Regions from separate parts of the Homo sapiens genome. Here region 2 is linked to region 1. Evidence: fine-mapped expression QTL. A gene starts in region 1. The other region holds a variant in brackets. All regions are shown on one strand. Distances are from middle to middle. Region 1 holds the start of RANGAP1 (Ran GTPase activating protein 1). Region 2 overlaps RANGAP1 (Ran GTPase activating protein 1).

Region 1 (2,909 bases):
AGACTACAGGCTTGCACCATCACGTCCAACTAATTTTTGTATTTTTTGTCGAGACAGGGTTTGACCATGTTGCCCAGGCTGGTCTCACACTCTCTCGCCTATAATCCCAACACTTTGGGAGGCCAAGATGGGCAACAAGAGTGAAACTCCATCTCAAAAAAAAAAAACAAAAAAAAAACGCTGTTTGTGTTTTTATGCTTAAATTCACACCTACAGAAAAGTTGCAAAAATGTTCAAAGAACTCCCATATTCTTCAACCAGATTAACTGATTAACATTTTGCCACATTTGTGTCTCTGCTTTCTCTATGTATATGTATAGGTATATTTCTTTTAACCATAAAGGTTGCAGACATCATGTCCTTTTTGTCCCTAATTATTTCAGCATTTTTTTCCAAGAACAAGGGCAGTCTCTTACATAACCCTGTACCATAATCAAAATTAATAAATTTAACATTGATACAATACTATTATCTAATATAGTCAAGTTTTGCTGTTTCAGTATTGTCCTTTATAGCAATCCCCACCCAGGATCCGATCCAGGACCATGTCTTGCATTCAGTTGTCTTTTTCGTTTCCTGTAATCGGCAACAGTTCCTCAGTTTTTCTTTGTCTTACATAATACAGACATTTCCGGAAGGGTACAGATCAGTTATTCTGTACCATGTCCCTCAGCTTGGGTTTCTCATGATTAGACTAAGGTCATGCATTATAGACCGGACGGTGACGCCGTGTTTTTCTCAGTGCATCACACAGAAAGCGTGCGATGAATGTCAGCTTGTCCTGCTGTTGATGTTAACGTGGCCGTTCAAGTGGTGTCTGCGGAGCTTCTCTACGATAGTTACTATTTCCCCTTTTTAATTATCAGGTAATTTGTGCATATTTATGTGGAAGCCTTCGAATGCCCTTTCAGTTTCATGGGACGGAAAAGAGTCTTTTCTTTCGGGAAATGGATACCTGTGTCTTGCCCAAGAGACCCAGCAGCCAGCAGTACCTGTTATCAACAAAGTTACGCGAACAAAACCTTTCCGGAAGAGCTGAGGGACCTGGGTGCAACGCATTCTGGGAATTGTAGTCTCTGGGCGCTCCCGGCTGAACACCTCCCTGCGGTCTCTGCGAGAAAGAGCCAGAAGCCACCAGGGGAGGGCGAAGAGGAGGGCGGTGGAGGACGCTCTGCGCGCGGTGCGCCATGGGACGGGTAGTTCGCGGTGCGCGCCCCATCGCGCTCCCAGATGGGGAACCGGACTACTCTACCCGAGAGGCCGCGCGAGCGGGGCGAGGGCAAGCCGGCCGGGGCCTCGAACAAATCAAATCGAAGCAAAGAAACTGCCGGCTTTCAAAATCCTCCTCCTCCGCCATCATCCGCCGCGGTGCGGAGAGCAGGTGGTGCTGGAAGCGCGTGAGGCCGGGAGCTCGAGAGAGCTAACAGACTAGCCGGCTGGACATCTGGACCGCTGGATCCGGAGGTGGCGACCCCGGCCTGACCCGGACCCTAAATCCGTCCCCGCCCCAGAGGGCGGAGGCGCGCGCTCGATTCCCCCCACGCGGCGGCGCCGCCTGTTTACGGTAGAGTCAGGGTCCCTTTCCTTTCCCCGTCACCTGCCTGGAACAGGGGTGCGGGGCGAGGAGGGCGTGGCGCCCGTGTGCGCCTTCTGCCTGCCCCCTCGGCCTTCTTCACTTAGCCTTCGACGGCCGAGCGCCCCAGGGGTGGCGGTGGGAGTGGGGTTGTTGAGCGGCGCTGGCTCCTTTCACAAATGGGGAAACTGAGGCTTAAAGGGCGTCTGACTCGCCAGAGCAGCTCAGCCTGCAGCTGCTAGCAGTGGCGTCTCATATTAGCATTGTTGTCAACCGGAGGCGGTGCGAGTCCGCCGGGGATTCCAGATGGGGCTCCTGCGCCGCCCGCCTATCATTTGCGGCCTGTATTCGCGCGTCGCTCCCGCAGAGCCACCTCCCAGCAGGCCCACGCCCGCGGGGGCCCCGGGCTGGCGCCGCTGTCCCTGGAATCGATGTGAGTCACTGCTGACGCTTTGCAGGAGCATGCATCTCACCTCAGAAAGTCTCTGACGTTGCTGCGGAGCGGGGAGAGGATGTTTCTCTATTAGCCCTTTGCTTTTGCTCTGGCGCTGATCCTTTGCTGACCTTGGACAAATCAATTTACGTTTCTGTGCTCCAGTTTCTTGGTTTATAAAGTGAGTGTGGAGGGGTGCATCTCTGTCTCGCTCTCTCTTGGACTGAGGAATGGGCCCCCGTTCAGCTGAGAAGTTCTGTCCCTATTCTATCTGGAGGCTTCACCACCACCTTTTACCCTCAAATTGTCCCATCTCAGAACTGCAAGAGATGCTGGGGTTTCAGGTTAATTTTTTTGTTGGTTTTTCTTTAAATTTTTTTATCTTTTTAGAGACGGTCTCCTTCTGTCACCCAGGCTGGAGTGTAGTGGAACGATCACCGCTGAACTGCAGCGTCGGCTTCCTGGGCTCAAGCGATCCTCCCACCTCAACCTCCCAAGTCATGGGGACTACAGATGCCATCACACCTGGCTAATTTTTAAATTTTTCTGTGGAGACAGGGTCTCATTCTGTTGCCCAGGCTTGTCTCGAACCCTGGTCTAAAGTGATCTTCCCGCCTAGCCTCCCAAAATGTTGGAATTACAGGTGTGAGTTATTGCACTGGGCTGGTTTCTGGTTAATTTATTTTTTGAAACAGGGTCTCCAGAAGTACAGCAGCAAGATCTCAGCTCACTGTAGCCTCCACCTACGGGGCTCAAGTGATCCTCCCACCTTACATCCCAGGTAGCTGGGACTGCAGGCACCTGCCACCACACCCAGCTAGTTTTTGTATTTTTAGTGGAGACAGGGTTTCGGCATACTGCCCAGGCTGGTTTCTAACTCCTGTGCTCAATCGATCCGCCCAC
Region 2 (2,909 bases), 40 kb after region 1:
CACTGCACTCCAGCCTGGGTGACAGAGCGAGACTCCGTCTCAAAAAAAAAAGAAAAAGAAAAAGAAAAAAAGCAACCAAAAAAACAATGGCTAGCCATTTACTTATGATCCAGATTGGACTCTAGTGGGCCAGTCCTATGTGGCCACTGGCAGCCAGTAAGGATTCCCTGGCCTATGTCTGCTGGAAGGGCCCTTGGAGAGCCTGGCTGAGGGGGCCTTCATTCTGGCCAGCTCTGGGCTGTGTGGCGTTGGGTGCCTGGCTCTCTGAGCCTCTCGCACCTCCCATCCCCACCCACGGTGTGCAGAAGGCAGAGGGCTAATGTCTCTCTTGCTGAGTCGTTGTGCAAATTAACAAAAATGAGTCTGGCACCAAAATGGCCCCCACACTTGGAAAACAGGCCAAGAGGCATCCACCGACCTGCTGACCCCTCTTTCCCCGCAGGCCCAACAGCGCCCTGGAATCCTGCTCCTTCGCCCGCCACAGTCTGCTGCAGACGCTGTACAAGGTCTAGACTCAAAGCCTCTCCCATCCCTTGGCCTGGACCAGTGAGCTGGGGAGGGACTCGGATGAACTGAGGCGCAGCCTACGCCATTGCCTTGGACAGGACTCTGGCCACAGGCAGGGCGGGTCTGTGTCCCATGTGTCCTGTCAGTCCCCTGAGTATGTGTGTGGGTGTGGCGCATGTGCAGGTCTGTGCCTCCTGTCGGGATTTGGGTTTTAACGTCTTCTGCTGGCCCAGCCCTGCTCTGTTGTGGGGAGTTGGCCCCCAGGGGAAAGGGCTGTGAGCTGCTCCGCCATTAAACTCACCTCCACCTGAGGGCGCTCTGCTGATCTCCGCCTGGGCCCTGATGGCCGTCCCCACCCACCTGCCTTCCGGCCCGGCTCCCTGGCGGAGCCAGAACCCAGGGAGTTGCCCGCGTGCTGTCCTTCCCCTCTGTGTTGTGATTGGGTTGTTTCCTGCCCTGCCTGGGGCTGCTTCTCGTCACCAAGCCCTGGTCCTGCGGCAGCTGTCACCCCTACCATCCATACCACTGTGCTGACCGCTCAGCCTGAAGAGCAGAGAATGCCATGGGTGGGACTGTGGGGGTCGGATCGTGGGGTTGTTGGCAGAGGGCAACCCTGGGCCCCACACCGTGTGGACAGGCAGACACCAGATTGTCCAGGAGCAGGAGCTGCTGGGACTGCGCTGGCCCCGGACCTAGTGGGCCTTCTCCTGGCTGCTGAGATGTCGTCTGTGACTGGCCTGGCTGGAGGGGGAGTGTTGACAACCCAAAGCTGTTCTCCAGTCTGGGGAGGGAGAGGCAGGGTCCCCAATGTCCGAGCTGCATCTGGACGCTGCTCTTAAAGGACCTCCTGGGGCAGGGGAGCGGTAGGGTCTGGACTGGGCAGATGCTGTATGACCTCCCTGAGCACCCGTGACTGCCCCATGCTTTCCCCTTTGTGCTCTGTGTGTGTCTGGGCTGTGCCCGGGGGCTTCACAAATAAAGTCGTGTGGCAGCTTCAGAGACTCAGAAACTCTCACTGAAAGCGGGATAGTCTCGGGGGCC[G/A]TTGTACGTGGAGTCCCACCTCGGCAGAGCATGCGGCCCCGCAGCAGTCTGTGGGGCAGTCAGCCCTGCAGAAGGGCCCGGCCTCGGCCTCAGGCCACTACCTGGGAAGTGGCAGTCCTGAGTGGGGGCCCATTTTCCTGCCTGGCCACACCTCACCCAGCACCCTGCCTTTGGGCTGCAGCTCGCTTGGCTTCTGCGTTGCTCCTTCACTATGGAAGCCACCTCCCTTGGGATCCTTTGCTCCACTGCCACATATGTGAGGACAGCCCAGCCAACCTTCCTTACCTCCTACCCTACACCATGTATGTGCTTTGGGAGCCCATGTCCCCCACAAACGGCCTCCAAGAAGTCCCTCCAAGGTTTCTTAGAGGGCAATATTTTCTCATTGGCAGTCGGCCACGTAGGTGACCAGGTGGCAGAGGATACTGCTGGCCCTGTCCCCTGTCTTCTGTGTGAGTTGATACGGTAGGGGGTGGGTGTGGGGCTGGCATTAAGTTCTGATGCCAGCTACAACGTGGATGAACTTTGAAAACATGTTAAATGAAATAAGCCAGACACAAAAGGACAAATATGATTCCATTTAGATGAGGCATCTAGAATAAGCAAATTCAGAGACAAGAAGGTAGAGGTTGCCAGGGCTAGGGGAAGGGTGGAATAGGGAGTGAGGCTGCAAACAGATTCTCTGGGATGATGAAGATGTTCTGGAAATGGAGAGTGGTGATGGTTGCATAACATTGTGAATGTACTTAATGCACTGAATTGTACACATAAAAATGGTTAAAATGATAGATTTCATGTATTAATATATTTTACCTCAGTTAATGTTTTAAAAATTAAGCAAAACTATAGAGCTTCACCCGGGTGTGGTGGCTCACGCCTGTAGTAATCCTAGCACTTTGGGAGGACGAGGCGGGCAGATCACTTGAGCCCAGGAATTCAAGACTGGCCTGGCCAACATGGCAAAACCCTGTCTCTACTAAAAATACAAAAATGAGCTGGGTGTGGTGATGCATGCCTGTAGTCTCAGCTACTTGGGAACCTGAGGTGGGAGGATCACCTGAGCCCAAGAAGTGGATGCTGCAGCAAGCCGTGATCGTGCCACTGCACTCCAGCATGACTGACAGCGAGACCCTGTCTCAAAAAAGAGAGAGAGAGCTTGTAGGAGATAGTGTAAGTGAGTATCTTCAAGGCCTTAGGAGTGAGGAAAAGATGAATAAATTAAGCTGTATTTAACCTCCTTTGCCATTATCGTGGGATGTTCACACAATGGAAATGATGTAGCAGTGAGAACAGGTTTCTGTTTATCAAAATACTCATTAAGGAGTACAAAGGCAACTTACAGACAGGGAGAAAATAATTGC

Evidence for each region. PIP is the estimated chance that this variant, and not a neighbour inherited with it, causes the effect.
Region 2: its variant is fine-mapped to the expression of RANGAP1 in whole blood (TOPMed, PIP above 0.99).

The regions. Positions count from the first base shown.
Region 1 is chr22:41,284,641-41,287,549 of GRCh38, reverse strand. RANGAP1 (Ran GTPase activating protein 1) reads left to right here and starts at 1,363. Exons shown (of 16, transcript NM_002883.4): 1 at 1,363-1,564. RefSeq lists enhancers at 471-520, 841-910, 941-1,160, 1,591-1,660.
Region 2 is chr22:41,244,206-41,247,114 of GRCh38, reverse strand. RANGAP1 (Ran GTPase activating protein 1) reads left to right here. Exons shown (of 16, transcript NM_002883.4): 16 at 443-2,336. The coding sequence ends at 512. Among named protein-coding and RNA genes, the nearest start is that of CHADL, 4.7 kb to the right of the region's middle. The variant G/A (reference allele first, on the strand shown) is at 1,549.